Linked DNA regions of Homo sapiens: region 2 is linked to region 1. A link means that fine-mapping ties the variant in region 1 to the expression of a gene that starts in the linked region. Tissue or cell type: testis. Region 1 holds a variant in brackets; the other region holds the start of a gene. All regions are shown on one strand. Distances are between the middles of the regions.

What was found. PIP is the estimated chance that this variant, and not a neighbour inherited with it, causes the effect.
Region 2: it holds the start of SSBP2, and the variant in region 1 is fine-mapped to the expression of SSBP2 in testis (GTEx, PIP 0.96).

What each region holds. Positions count from the first base shown.
Region 1 is chr5:81,538,123-81,546,122 of GRCh38, reverse strand. All of the region lies in intron 4 of SSBP2 (single stranded DNA binding protein 2), which reads left to right. Among named protein-coding and RNA genes, the nearest start is that of ACOT12, 150 kb to the right of the region's middle. The variant ATCACCATG/G (reference allele first, on the strand shown) is at 3,485.
Region 2 is chr5:81,748,052-81,756,217 of GRCh38, reverse strand. It overlaps SSBP2 (single stranded DNA binding protein 2), which reads left to right and starts at 5,121. Exons shown (of 17, transcript NM_001256732.3): 1 at 5,121-5,237. The coding sequence starts at 5,176. RefSeq lists a cis regulatory region at 1,327-1,412 and silencers at 4,220-4,569, 4,840-5,169, 5,340-5,389, 5,830-5,879, 6,100-6,259.

The sequences.
Region 1 (8,000 bases):
CCTAACACTCAGTAGGTGATTAATAAATGATAGCCATTGTTCTTGATCAGCCAGGCTTGTACTTAAACATTCTCTTTAAAACTATTGAAGGAAAAAAGAAGGAAAGGGAATTTCATCTGATCAACCAGCTTGTGCTTAAACATTCCCTTTAAAACTATTTTAGGGAAAAGGAAGGGAAGGAAATTTCATCTGTCTAGCTCACCAAGAATGGAGTGGACATTGGATTCTGGGAGCAAAGGCCTATGACAAAGAAATTAAAACTAAAATACTCTCTCTGCCTTTTTATAAATCAGTTTTTCTCTTCATGCCACTTTGGTAACAACTTTTGTGGTATCAGAATTAAAGACTGTTTATTAACACAGTTTTCCCTTTTAATTTGCCATATATTGTTTTTTGTATTATACAAGGGTTAGTACTTGTCTAAGCTGACCTGCTACGCCCCTGAAAGCACAAAATGTGTCTTGTTCATTGTATATATATCCCAGAGTATATCACACCTAATATGTAATCAACAAGTATATATGAATTCCATGAATCTCAGTTGTTGTGTATACTGTGCCTGAGAGGCAGAAGAACTTGGTTTGTTAACAGCTTGACCACAAATCAACTATGTGGTGATAGTTTCAGACTTTATTCACACAACTAATTATTTTTATTGCTATTGTTAGTATTACTACTACTAATTATTTCTATTACTGTTCTTTAAAATAGTATTTGTATGTTTTTTATTAGTCAAGGTAGGAAAGTGGTTGTAAAAAAATCCCAAATTTCAGTGCCTTAATACAATAAAAGTTTATTTCTTACCTTATGTCACAGTCTACTATGTATAGGATTGCCAGATAAAATTCAAGATGCCCAGTTACATTTGAATTTCAAATAAGCAATAAACAATTTTTAAGTATATCCTAAATATTGCATACATATATAGTTATGTCTTTAATACTGTATAAGGCATACTTATACTAAAAAAATATGTGTTTTATCTGAAATTCAAATTCAGCTGTGCTCTCTGTATACTTATTAATTGTTAAAGCTGGCCACCCTAAAGTGTAGAGGAGTGATGATGGATAGAAGAGGTGGGTGGCTCTACTTTGTACAGTCAGTGAGAGTCTCATACTCCTTCCTTCACATAGTCCTACCATATGTTGGGCCTTATCCTCCTCTATATTCAGTCCATATGTGGAGAACAGCAGAGCATAATATATGGGGAATTGTGTGTGAGGTTTCATGGGCCAAACTTGGAAGCACCTTGTTATCACTTCCACCCACTTTGTACATATTTGCCATAACTCAGTCACATGACCTCTGCTCACATAAAGGAGGGCTGGGAAATGTAGTTTGGCTGTGTGTCTGAGAAGCAAAAACAGGTTTAGTGAGCATCCAGTCTCTACCATATTCCTTTCTTTGTTCACTAAATCAGTGACATTATTGTTTTTATTTTTCTGTTTTTTTCCCCTTTGAACAATTAGGATATCAGCACATTTACTCTTAGTTTTGTTCTCCCCCTGCAAAAACAAACAAAACCACAATGATTCCTTTTAAACATTCCTTCCTTTTATGTCTTTCTGTGGAATCATCAAAATGAGTTGTACTATTTCTCCAAAGAATGTAAGTTAGACTTAATACATGTTTAGGCGAAGTTCAAGAGACACACCTGCTCATTTCTTGTCCTGAAATACATTACAGGGTGCCCAGTTATACAGCTGGTCAATAAAAAGATGCCTGATTGCCTTCCAGAGTCAAAGAGGCTTCACTTGACAATAAGAAATAAAGGTGGGCCAGGCGCAGTGGCTTAGGTCTGTAATCCAAGCACCTTGGGTGGCTGAGGGGGGCGGATCACGAGGTCAGGAGTTGAAGACCAGCCTGGCCAAGATGGTGAAACCCCGTCTCTACTAAAAATACAAAAATTAGCCGGGCGTGGTGGCATCGCCTGTAGTCCCAGCTACTCAGGAGGCTGAGGCAGGAGAATGTCGTGAACCCGGGAGGCGGAGCTTGCAGTGAGCCGAGATCCCGCCACTGCACTCCAGCCTGGGCCACAGAGCGAGACTCCGTCTCAAAGGAAAAAAAGGAAGGAAGAAAGAAAGGTGGAAGTTTGGTGTTTTTGTGAAGAGAAAGAATTGCATCATGAAGATAGTGTCAGTGTTTGAGCATATAAGTAGATTATTGTTTATAATTATATATTGTTTATTTCAGTATTGCACAGCAAACATATCCATTTTATTTATATTACATTGTTTTGGAAAACTCTAGATATACTTAGCAGAGTAGTTATATTTGATTTAAAGGGTAGAAAAAAATTAGTAATTTGGATGTCTTGTTTTAAATGACATTTATTTGTTTCTTCATTCTTTCATTTAGCAAATAATTATTGAATGCCTACTATTTGTAGGATATAGCATGTATAGTTGAAGCTATACATGAGTATCCATAGTCACTGTGATAGGAATTCTTTTTTTTCAACTTTTATTTTAGATTCAGAGGATACATATATGTAGGTTTGTTACCTGGATGTATTGCATGATGCTGAGGTTTAGGGTATGAATGATCTTATCACCCAGGTACTGAGCATAGTACCCAATAGTGAGTTTTTCAACCCTTGTTCCCTCTCTTCCTCTCCCCTCTAGTAGTCTTCAGTGTCTATTGCTGGCATCGTTATGATCATGAGTACCCATTGTTTAGCCCCCAATTCTGAGTGAGAACATGTGATATTTGGTTTTCTGTTCCTGAATTAATTTGCTTAAAATAATGGCCTCCAGCTGCATCCATGTTGCTGCAAAGGACATGTGTATTAGTCTGTTCTTAGACTGCTACAGAGATACTACCTAAGACTGGGTAATTTATAAACAAAGGAGTTTTAATTGACTTACAGTTCCGCATGGCTGGGGAGGACTCAGGAAACTTACAATCGTGGTGGAAGGGGAAGTAGGCACCTTCTTCACAAGGCTGTAGGAGAGAGTATAAGCATGTTGGCCGGGCAGGGTGGCTCACGCCTGTAATCCCAGCACTTTGGGAGGCCGAAGCAGGCGGATTACCTGAGGTCAGGAGTTCGAGACCACCCTGGCCACCATGGTGAAACCCCGTCTCTACTAAAAATACAAAAATTAAATGGGCATGGTGGCACATGCCTGTAATCCCAGCTACTCGGGAGGCTGAAGCAGGAGAATTGCTTCAGCCCGGGAGGCAGAGGTTGCAGTGAGTCGAGATTGTGCCAGTGCACTCCAGCCTGGCCGACAGAGCCAGACTCTGTCTCAAAAAAAGAAGAAAGAAAGGAGAGAGAGAGAGAGAGAGAGAGAGAGAGAGAGAGAAACTGTCAAATACTTATAAAAACCATCAGATTTCATGAGAAGTCACTATCATAAGAACAGCATAGGGGAAGCCACCCCATGATCCAATCACCTCCCACCTGGTCCTTCCCTCGACACATGGGGATTATGAGGATTACAATTCCAGATGAGATTTGGGTGAGGACACAGCACCAAACCAT[ATCACCATG/G]ACTTTGTTCTTTTTTGTGGATGCATAGTATTCCATGGTGTATATGGAATATATACCATGTGTATACACCATGGAATACTATGCATCTATTTTCTTTATCCAGTCCACTGTTGATTGACATCTAGGTTGATACCATGTCTTTGCTATTGTGAGTAGTGGTGCTATGAACATGTGAGTGTATGTGTCTTTTTGATAGAATGATTTATTGACTTTTGGTTTTATGCCAAGTAATGGGATTGCTGGGTTGAATGATAGTTTTGAGTTCTTTGAGAAATCTCCAAACTGCTTTCCACGGTGGCTGAACTAAATTACATTCCCACTAACAGTGTATAACACTTTTCTTCACAGCCTTACCAACATGTTTTTGTTTTTTTGACTTTTTTAATAATTGCCATTCTCACTGGGTGAGATGGTATCTCATTGTGGTCTTGATTTGCATTTCTCTGATTATTAGTGATGCGGAGCATTTTTTCATGTGTTTGTTGGCCGCTTGTATGTCTTCTTTTGAGAAGTGTCTGTTCATGTCTTTGCCCATATTTTAATGAGGCTATATGTTTTTTGCTTGTTCATTTAAGGTCCTTACGGATTCTGGATATTAGACCTTTGTTGAATGCAGAGTTTGTGAATACTTTCTCCCATTCTGTAGGTTGGTTGTTTACTCTGTTGATAGTTTCTTTGCTTTGCAGACCCTCTTTAGTTGAATTAGGTTCCACTTGTCAATTTTTGTTTTTGTTGCAATTGCTTTTGAGGACTTAGTCGTAATTCTTTGCCATGGACGAAGTCCAGAATGGTGTTTCTTACTTTTTTTTCTAGGATTCTTATAGTTTGAGGTTTTACATTGAAACCTATACTTTATTTTGAGTTATTTTTTGTATATGGTGAAAGGTAGGGGCCCAGTTTCATTCTTCCACATATGGCTAGCCAACTATCCCAGCACCATTTATTGAATAGGGGTCCTTTTCCCATTTAGTATTTTTGTCTACTTTGTCAAAGATCAGATGGCTGTAGGTCTGCAGCTTTTTTTCTGGGTTCTCTATTCTGTTCCATTAGTCTATATGTCTCTTTTTGGACCAGTACCATGCTGTTTTGGCTTATTGTAGCCTTATAGTATAGTTTGAAGTCAGGTAATATGATGTCTCTGGCTTTGTTTTTTTTCACTTAGGATTGCTTTGGCTATTTTGGCTCTTTTTTGGTGCTATATGAATTTTAGAATCGTTTGTTCTAGTTCTGTGAAAAATGACATTGGTAGTTTGGTATGAATAGCATTGAATCTATAGAGTGCCTTAGGCAGTATCGCCATTTTAATAATATTGATTCTTCCAATCTGTGAGCATGAGATGTTTTTACATTTGTTTGTGTCTTCTATGACTTCTGTTATCAGTATTTTGTAGTTCTCCTTGTAGAGATCTTTCAACTACTTGGTTAGATGTATTCCTGGCTATTTTATTTTTTTCCTGTGGCTATAGTAAATGGGATTGCATTCTTGGTTTGGCTCTCAGCTTGAACATGATTAGTATATAGAAATGCTGCTGATTTTTTTTTCCATTGAATTGACATCCTGAAACTGTGCTGATGTAGTTTATCAGCTCCAGGAAACTTTTGGCAGGGTCTTTAAGGTTTTCTAGCTATAGAATCACACATTGTTTGCATAGAGAGATAGTTTGACTTCTTTTCTTATTTGGATACCTTTTTTTTTTTTCTAACTTTCTGTTGCCCAATTGATCTGGCTAGGACCTCCAGGAATTCTAATATTTAACCCTTAATATTGAATGGAGTTACATTTCATGTCATGCTTTTTGAGTGATTTACAGGTGCAAATCGGAGATACTGCAGTTTGGTTTCAGAGCACCACAATAAAGTGAATATTGCCATAAACTGAGTCACACACATGTTTTGGTTTCTTTTATAGGGCATATAAAAGTTATATGTACATTATACTGTATTCTATTAAACATGCAATAGCATTATACCTAAAGAAACAATGTACATACCTTAGTTCCAGAATCTACAAAGAACTTAATCAAATTTATGAGAAAAAAACAACCCCATGAAAAAGTGGGCAGAGGATATGAATAGACATTTCTCGAAAGAAGACATTTATGCAGCCAACAAACATATGAAAAAAAGCTTATCATCACTGGCCATCAGAGAAATGCAAATCAAAACCACAGTGAGATACCATCTCATGCCAGTTAGAATGGCGATTGCTAAAAAGTCAGGAAACAACAGATGCTGGAGAGGATGTGGAGAAATAAGAACGCTTTTACACTGTTGGTAGGAGTATAAATCAGTTCAACCATTGCGGAAGACAGTGTGGCGATTCCTCAAGGATCTACAACCAGAAATACCATTTGTCCCAGCGATCCCATTACTGGCTATATACCCAAAGGATTGTAAATCATGCTGCTATAAAGATGCATGCACACATATGTTTATTGCGGCACCATTCACAATAGCAAAGACTTGGAACCAACCCAAATGCCCATCAATGATAGACTGGATAAAGAAAATGTGGCACATATACACCATGGAATACTATGCAGCCATAAAAAAGGATGAGTTCATGTCCTTTGTAGGGACATGGACGAAGCTGGAAACCATCATTCTCAGCAAACTAACACAGGAAAAGAAAACCAAACACTGCATGTTCTCACTCATAAGTGAGAGTTGAACAATGAGAACACATGGACACAGGGAGGGGAACATCACACACCGGGGCCTGTCGGGGTGGGGGGCTAAGGGAGGGATAGCATTAGGAGAAATACCTAATGTAGATGACGGGTTGACGGGTGCAGCAAACTTCCATGGCACGTGTATACCTATGTAACAAACCTGCACGTTCTGCACATGTAATCCAGAACTTAAAGTATAATAAAAAAATTATTGCTAAGAAATGGCAACAATTCTCTGAGCCTTCAGTGAGTCAAAATCTTTTTGCTGTTGGAAGGTCTTGCCTTGATATTGATGGCAGCTGACTGATCAGAGTGGTGGTTGCTGAATGCTGGGGTGGCTGTGGCAGTTTCTTAAAATAAGACAACAATGAAGTTTGCCACATTGAATGACTTTTCCTTTCACAAATGATTTCTCAATAGCATACAATACTGTTTGATGGCATTTGACCCACAGTAGAACTTCAAAATTGGAGTCAGTTTTAGTCTTAAACCTTGCCGCTGCTTTATCAACTCAGTTTATGTAATATTCTAAATCTTTTGTAATCGTTTCAGCAGTGTTCATAGCATCTTCACCAGTAGATTCTATCTCAAGAAACCACTCTCTTTGCTCATCCATAAGAAGCAACTCATCTGTCAAGTTTGATATCGTGAGATTGGCAGCAATTCAGTCACATCTTCAGGCTCCACTTGTAATTCTTGTTCTCCCTCTATTTCCACTACATTTGCAGTGACTTCTTCCACTCAAGTCTTGAACCCCTTAAAGTCATCCACAAGGGTTGGAATCAACTACTTCCAAACTCTAGTTTATGTTACTATTTTAATCTCCTCCCGTGAATCACAAATGTTCTTAATAGCATCTAGAATAATGAATTCTTTCCAGAAGGTTTTCTATTTACTTTTTCCAGACCCATCGAAGGATTCACTATTTGTGGCAGTTAAAGCCTTATGAAATATATTTCTTAAATAATAAGTCTTGAAAGTCAAAGTTACGCCATGATCCATGGGCTGCAGAATAGATATTGTGTTTGCAGTCAGGAAAACAACATCAGTCTCCTTGTATATCTTCATCAGAGCTCTTGGGTGACTAGATGCATTGTCAATGAACAGCAGAGGACTTCCGTGTAGCAGGTCTCAACAGTGGGCTTCAAATATTCGGTAAACCATTCTGTGAACAGATGTGCTGTCACCCAGGCTTTGTTGTTCCATTTATAGAACACAGGCAGAGTAGATTTAGTGTAATTCTGAAGGGCCATAGGATTTTCAGAATGGTAAATGAGCATTGGCTTCAGCTTAAAGCCCCCAACTGCATTAGCTGCTAACAAGAGAACCAGCCTAACAAGAGAATCAGCCTTTGAATATTTGAAAGCATGCATTGACTTCTGCTCTTTAGCTATGAAAGTTCTACATGGCATCTTTCAATAGAAGGCTGTTTCATCTACACTGAAAATCTGTTGTTTGGTATAACCACCATAATCAGTGATCTTAGCTAGATCTTCTGGATAACTTGGTGCAGCTTCTACATCAGCACTTACTGCTTCACTGTGCACCGTTTTGTTCTAAAGACAGCTTCCTTCCTTAAACTTCATGAACCAGTTTCTGCCAACATCAGACTTTTTGTCTGCTGCTCTCTTACCACTCAATTGAAGAGACTTAGGGCCTTGCTCTGTATTCGGCTTTGGCTTAAGGAAATGTTGTGGCTGGTTTGATCTTCTATCCACATCACTAAATCTTTCTCTGTATAAACAGTAAGGCTGTTTTGCTTTCTTATCATCTGTGTTTCACTGGAGTAGCACTTTTAATTTCCTTCAAGAACTTTTCCTTTGCATTCACAACTTG
Region 2 (8,166 bases), 210 kb before region 1:
ACCTTACTAGGTGAAAAACCATTGTGAAGATTTAGGAATGCACTAAAAAAAATAGTAATACTTTTGAATAAAGAACACTCTTTGGCACACTTCCTATTACATAACTCTCAACATTTAATGACAAAAATCCAGCCAGTGAACATGACAACACTTGGAATTTGTTTTGCAAAATGCTACATACAGTATATGAAATTGCCATACATGGTAGCCCTGGTTTTTCATTTTTCATCTTCAGCTTATATATAATTCTTTGTATAAGGATAATTTTATTTTATTCCAAGTCACTAAACTTTACATTCTTGGTAGTGCTAAAAAAGACTAGACCCTCTAGGGCTGGAACTCTTTGGAACTGGCAGATCTGCACACCATGTCTCCTAACATATTGGTAAGTGTTTATGAATATGTAAATTGGGATTTAAAAAATCCAGGGCAATAGGTTATGGAAACAGTCATTGCCTCAGATTAGCTGATGTTAAACCAATAATAGTGTGTCAAAAAATGTTAATTTGAGGCCCAATTTCATTTATTATTCTGGTGTAAGTGACTAAATTGCACAGTAGCATAGTTGCAATGACTATTCATTTCATTACTTTGGTACATGGCATTTGAGCATTTTGTGAATCTGAGCATGCTGGTCTCTTCTGCCTGGGAGTGAAGTTTCACAAGGTAATCTGAATGACAAACATCTCAGAGCTTGCTCACATTCCTTGGTGGAATAGTCACTTCTGAGAGAAAGAGGTGTGGCTTCGTGGTCTGGGAAAAGGACTGCCAGCCAGGAACATGGAGTTCTTCTTCTGGAACTAGTTCTGTTTTCTTTTTGGATCAGCTAATGCTAACGAATATATCTAGAACTCAGTTCACCCAGTTTAAAAAGCTGGTTAGGGAAATCTAATTAACTGGGATGTATTGAGTAATAATGAATGAATATCTGTTAAACGATTTGAAATGAAAAGTGGTATGAATGCAACTGAGTTATTTGTATAAACTGATTAGTTTTATGAAACAAATAAATAATAGAACAGTTTTATTTTTGGGGAATATTACTCTAAAACAAGAAAATTTATTTTAATGTTTAGTTTATTTTTCTAAATATTTTTATTTCTAAGTGGTTTTAAGTTAATAAGCTAAATGTTCTGTATGATGCACATAATTAAATTCATGATTAGCTTCCATTTAAACATAAAGAGGTGGTCTCTTTGTTGTATATAACAGGTAAATCTTTTCTGAGGTCTCATGCACTGTAAGAATGTAGACATTATTAACCTTAATGTTCTACAGAAAAAAAAGTTAGGATCAAAGAAATGTATAGTCAATCTAGAGCTTGAGCAGGGTGGCATAATGAACTGCCTGTTTTAAAGTGATAAAGACTTCCAAGAATTAGATGTAGGTTCCAGAAAGAGAAAATTGTGCACACGTGTCCAAACGAAATGGGGGTACAGATGAGGGAGACCTAATGATTGAGTTATTGTGATGTTCTATATCTGAAAGAGTAAAGTTTTTTTAAAAAATCAACCTCAATTCCAAATGTTCCATTCTGGTGACATTGCTGGTCAGGGTTCCCCTATGCCAAATCCAGGCTCCCCAAATTCATCAATCTCATATGTGGGTTAAAAAAAAAACTCTAAAAATACATTGTGATTCTCTACACTAGGAAGCTTTAAATCTCCAATCTTTTCCCTTTTTAAAAAATGAAAACAAAACAATGGATCTTCATTTTTGTGTCTGGGATCTCAAATTTGGCTCTGAATATGTGTTTCAAATCTCATTAATTACAATATTGGTCCCAGGAGATACAGTTGCTGATGCAAAGAACACTCTTTGTACTCAACATAATTTGAACAAGGGCAAAGAAGCATTTTATTTACATGTGAAAACATTTAGAGGAAAATAAAACAGAGATGGTTCAGGTAGCTGCTGAGCTGTTTTAATGATAATTGATTTGATTACTTAAGCTTTAAGGTTACTATATACAGGATACATATACATATAAAAGTCATGTTTTCACTTTGTATATTTGTCAGATGAGAACATTCTTATAAAGGTAACTCTGACATTAACTTCGCAAGTTCTGAACTAAGACCTTTTAGCATTTTATTCTTTCCAAAGACTAAGACCAAATTGTTCTAAATTCCATACCCCACTGTGCAGATCTATAATTTATTTATTTTTTAAACATCAGAAAATATGCCATTACCCATAGGACTTCCAAATGTAACAAATCTGGGTAAAAACCAATCAAATGAATAAATTATAGCAGTAGACAGCAAACAGTTTCTCCTGTTCTCTTTCTTCATTTTCCTTTCTCTATAGGAAATAGCAAATTAAACCATGGCTATTCATGATCTTGTACTATGAGAACACATATGGGCATACATTTTTGTCCTATTAACAAGTTTGTTGGCTTGGTGGCAGAAAGTAAAGTACACTGTAAAGACATCTTAATGCTTTGAGTAGGGTCATTTGTTAATGGACAGCCCAACCTAAAAGTCTTGTACTAATCTCTTATGGTACCCATTGGCTGTCTTTAAATGGATACTGAAGAGCAAAGGCAGGCAGCCCTGGTTATACACAAGAACCACGTGGAGCTTATGAAAAAAATGCAGGTACCTGGGTCCATCCCCAAGGTTTCTGATCCAGTTAGTATATAAACAAACAAACAAAACCCAACAACAATGAAAATAAAGGCAATTCTAACGTGCCATGATTGAGAACCATAGTTAAGAGAGTCCCAACACCAGTGCAAGGATAATACCTACTTTGTTTTTGGATAGTAGGACAAAGCCCACCCTTGGTTCGTTTTTCCAGGGGCAGGCAGGAGGGTGTCTGAGAAGCTGCCAGAGCTCTCTGAGAACTGACAGCATTCTCTGAGCAGCACCTTTATAGGGAGTATTCTATAAGAGATGGAGCCTTGATATACTAAAAATTTTCTGGGTTAAGGCCAATGGAAGTAGATAATTGAACAAAAAAATTACATAATGCTAACCTTGAAGTTGAGTCTGTAAACTGTGGCAACCTTATACACATTTGAGCATTTTGAGCAAAAGTTCATTAAGAGAGGCTGACTGGCTCAGCTTCGCTTCAATCACCCAATCATTGCAGGTCATTAGAAACAAAAAGAAGAATATGAATGCCATATCCTAACCACCCAATAACTGTAGGTCATTAGAAACTGACAGAAGAATTCTTAAGTCAGAAATGGCAAATTACATCTCTTGGAAATTAATCTACTTAAGCCAGTGTATTTTTTTCCCCCACTTTTCCCCCCTCATTTCCTTTATTGGCTTAATTTTTGTCCTTTTAATAAAAGTGCTTTTTTTCTTATATCTTTTTTTTAACGATAATGTCTGTCCTCTATTACTTTTAATCTTTTGCTATCACACTCTATGGCTTCTTCATTTAATCCTGTATCTTCTAGTCTTCTCATCTTTTTATACCTCACTTTCCTCATGTTTTTTTCCTTGTCATTAACACCAGTATAGAAAGTCCTTCCTCTTCATTTTCCCGTCTTTATGTCTGGTTGCCAACCGCGTTTTTGATTCTCGACCTCTCACTTTTGCTAACTGCCCTTCCTTAATCATCTGTTGATGTTTTATTCCTATCACTTCTGTCAATGCTCACACCCATTTCTTTCCTTTCCATCTATCTGTATATCTCCATATGCATTTTATGATCCTCCTACTAAATGCTTAAAGCTGTGTGTGTGTGGAATAGAACGGTACCTTCCTCCACGCGAATCCGATTTCCCTCTCCTCCCATAGCTACTTCTTGTCTATTCATCCTTTCCAGATGTCGCCCTGTCCCACCCCATCTGTCCCCTTCTTCCCCGTGTGAAGCCCATCTTCTTTCTAACCCCATTTGCACCCGTCTGATTTTACAGTCAAGGACTTCAATAAGATAAATGATGCAGAGTTCTACTGGGAACCAGATTGTGTGTGTTTCTGAAACTTTTGCGCGTTTACTGAAATGGGATTAGGGATTTGGATACAGAAACATTCTCGGGCAGCCTTTCAGCCCTGGCACAGCTTTGTACACCTTGGAGCGCGCTGGGGCCTATTCTAACGGGCAAGGACAGGGAAGTCTTTCAAGACCTTTTCTGGCCTTTTCCACTCCAGGGGTCAGGATGAATAGGCATCACTGACCCAAACTGTTAAACCAGGCCGGGTGGGGAAGCCTGGGGCCCTCTTCTGCGGCAGATCTGGCGGGGTGTCCAGGGCGCCGCGGGGCTCCGTGCAAGAAGGGGTTGGGGCAGGGGCCGCTGCGGCCGCAGGAGTCACCGGGCCTCCTCGGGAGGTCCGCTCACCTCTTACAGAGGAGGCCGACCCCAGGCCGGGTGCTCCCCTGGGGCGCAGGGCGCGGCCCCGGGCGCCGCCACCGCAGCGGCGCCGAGGGCCGGAGGTGCAGCCTTTCCCCAGGAGAGAAGGCGAGTCGCTGTCGGTCGCTCAGCCAGAAGGTCGAGGGAACCGCGCGGGTGTCCCTCGCCAGCCGGCCCTCTGGGAACAGGGCGGGGGCGACACCCCAGGGAGTAGGGCTGAGGACCGCAAAAATCAATCGTGGGTACCGGCGCGGGGTCACGCATAGGAGAGGAGCGGGAGAGGGGCTGGTGGGGGCCCCAGGGCGGCTGAGGCCGTGGCTCTGTCGTGGACTCGGCGGGCGCCCCGAAGTCTGGGGCCGCCACGGCTCCAGCTCCGCCGGCTCCGGCCGGAGACTCCAGGCCGCAGTTTCTCCTCCTCCCGGCGCCTTCTCTCCAGTGAGGAGCTGAGCGCGGGCGGCGCGGGGGGAGGGGTGGCGGCGGAGAGAACAGCCAGTTGTTTAAAATCCTTCTAGAGCAGTTTCTAATTCCCCCCTTGCGCCCGGGTTCGGAGGGGGGAGGGGGAAGGAGAGCGGGTGGAGGGAGGAGAGCGGAGAGGGAAGGCGGGAGGGAGGGAGTCGGGGAGGGAGGGAAGGAGGGAGGAGACTGCCGCTGAGGCTTAGCCGCCACCGCGCGCTTCGGAAGGCCAGAGGGAGGGGGAGGCCTGTCAGTCTCGCGCGTTGCCTGGGCGAAGGGGGCGGAGCTTTGGCGTGGGGCGGCCAATAGTGGGGGTGGCTGCGTGGGTCGCCATGGGGACGGGGCTGTTCCCGGGGAGGCTGTGATGGGTTGACAGGTGCGTGACAGTGGGAGCTGCTCTCGGCACAAGCATGTACGGCAAAGGCAAGAGTAACAGCAGCGCCGTCCCGTCCGACAGCCAGGCCCGGGAGAAGTAAGTGTCTCCGCTTCTCACCCACCTCCGCCTTCACACGCGCGCACACTCACGCACGCACTCGCACACTCTGGGAGACACAGACACTCTCCGCCCGGGGAGCGCCGGGGGTGGGCTGGCAGGGGGAGGGGTGCCGCGATGGGGGCGTGTGGTGCGGGGAGCTGCGCTTTCCCGGGAGGTGCGGGCGCTGGGCGGGCGGCCGCAGGGGGCTGTCGGCGGGAGGGACCGGGTGTGTTGAGGGGCGGCGGTGGTGCTGGTGGCGAGGATGGAAACTTGTTTGGGTGATTGAGGGAAATAACCCGCGGGTTCACCTTCCAAAGTAACTTTAGAGCTGGGGTCCGGGGCTCCGGGGACCTGGGGAGCCGCCGGGGGTGGCGGGAGGGGCAGCTGCGTGGAGGAAGGCGCGCAGTGGGAATGTGGGTGTTTGGCGGGCCGGCCGGGGTCGGGGCCGGGGTCGGGGCGGGCAGCGCGGGGAGCGCGGCGGCGGGGGCCTGGGCGCTGGGGCTTAGGGCCGCGAGCGCGGGGCGAGGCGAGGCGAGGGCGGCGGTGCCGGGCGCGCGGCGGGCGGAAGCCGGGCGTGGAGCGGCCGAGCGGGGCCCCGCGGGGCGCGGAGACGCGCGCGGGGCGCGGAGGGCGTGTGCGGGTTGGGCGTCCGGGCTTTCCTGGGCCAGCTACGGACGCGGCGCCCGCAGTCCCCCGCGCATCGCGGGGCTGGGGCTGGGGCTGGGGCGGGGGCGGGGGCGGGTGGGCGCCGGAGACGCCGCCGAAGTTTGGGAGTCGGAGAGGGACCGAGTTCCCGGGGAGCTAAAGTGTGTTGGCGAGGAGCGGGATCCGCTGGAGGAGGCTGGCGTTTCTGCCTCTCGCAGCGGACCCAACTCCGCGGCGGCGGCTGGCGAACTTTTTGTGAGGCTGGCAGCCCCCGAGCGGCGGGAGGGGCGGGCCCGGCGGGGCGGTGGTCGGGGGCGCGCGGAGGGGAGTTGTGGGAGCCGCCGGGGGCGCCCGAGGAGGGCAGCTGTGGCGGGGAGGGCCAGTGGTCCGAAAAGGGGTTTGTGGGAGGGGAGAAGCGTTCAGGTGGGAAGGAGCCGCTTGGTTACAGTTGTGGGGAGATACAGGTGTTAACTTCGGTGGGAGCCCAAGAGGCGGCTGGCGAGAACAGAGCCCCTCCCGGCCCGGGATGCCACTGTCACGGCACACTGCAAAGCAAAGCGGTTTGCTGCTATTCTTGTGTACTTGTAACGGTGATTTGGTTGTTACTAAAAATGAGAACGAATAGTGACTGTGATCACTGAGGAAGAACCCCCCCCTTTTTTTTTTAAACTGTGCAACAGATCAGTGATTCCCAGTAACCACTTAAACTCTGAGGGTCAGAGTTATCCTTGTCGTTGAACGCACCCTGTCTTTCTGAGGGGGTTCAGACCAGAGAAAAAGTCTGAGAGCATCTCTCAAAGGTACTTTGGTTACCTTGCGCACAGAAATAGCTGCGTAAATAAAAACCGAATGCGCAGGCGACTGAGTTTCCCTCCTTGGTTTAGGCAGTTAGTCTCCCCCTGAAAGTTTTGTGTGCCCTAGGGATGGGAACATTTCCTAATCTTTGTGTTGGCAGCAACACACTCAATTCCCATAGGATTTAGAGGTATCAGGCCTTGATGTAGCAAAGCAAAACAAAACAAAACAAAAATTAGAGAGGCTTTTTTGTTTTTTTGCAAGAGATATTTTCTGAGCTGCATTCAGGATCTTGTTGCTGTGACAAGTAGTATATAAAAGACATAGCGTTATAGCCTGGTTAAGAAACGGCAGTTACTAGAATTGAAGTTTTGAAATGCAGTCTCATTTGTGTGCATTAATCATTTTGTTATAATGTGCCTGATAAAAACATCTGAAGGAGGATGTTTTAATGATCACAGAATATTTGAATTTCACATTAGTCAGAGTGATTGAAATGTATTGAGGCATGATCTTATTTTGGGGGTGACTGAATTTGAGAATCAAAGTAATTTTAGATTTTAGGTGAACTTCCAGGAAGGGGTGAACTTTAGTTGAATCCCACTCAGTATCCTGAGGACTGCTTGATTTTTTTTTTTAGTTTCTCAGATAATAACAAGGATGTTGGAACTTGCATAACTGTGGTCCTTTCTAGCTCTAATTCTGTGATTTCCCACCAGGAAAACAAATAATTGCCACTTTGCTGTCAAATCTACCAAACTGAACACCAAGTAATATCTACTCTCGTGAGCAGATCAGGGTTCTGCTAGATGGTGCTATTTGATTTAAATATATTTCTTCCATTCATTTCAATTGGCAGCAGGAATTCTTGACTGGTTTGCCTTATGAACTTAAATATAGGTGAAGAGGCCGCTTTTGGAGAATTGACAATGACTGTTCTGGGTTAATTGTCGTTGCATTAATTTCTAGGTTAATGTTGTTTGAATCTAAGACAAACATCGACGTAGGTTCTGTCTTATAGAATAAACTTAATTTCATCTTGGTGGGAGAGTTGATCTAATCTCTCGGTTTTTCTCTTTATGTTTACTTGGGACTTTAATGGCACTATTCTGCAACAATGTACTAACATCTGAAGGTAGGAATCTTGAAGTCATCATTAAAATGGATGTCACCAGATTTTTGTTCTTAATTTTTAAGGTAACAGATTATAAAAGGTGAAGAATTCTCCTTTAGTAAGCAAATTAGAACTGTTCTTATCTTAAAAATCACAGAAATAATTTGTTTCTGTAACAAATACTCATTTTAACAAAAACATTCTGCAAAAGGAGTCATTATTATAAATAATAGCATGCTTAGGAAATAAGCACATTGGTTTTATAATCAAGAAATGTGTTTTCTAACATGAGTTCATGGTGAATAGTTGACAAGTGCTTACCTGTATTAGATCTTTGTTTTGTCTTTCATTAGGAAGTCACTATATGAAATA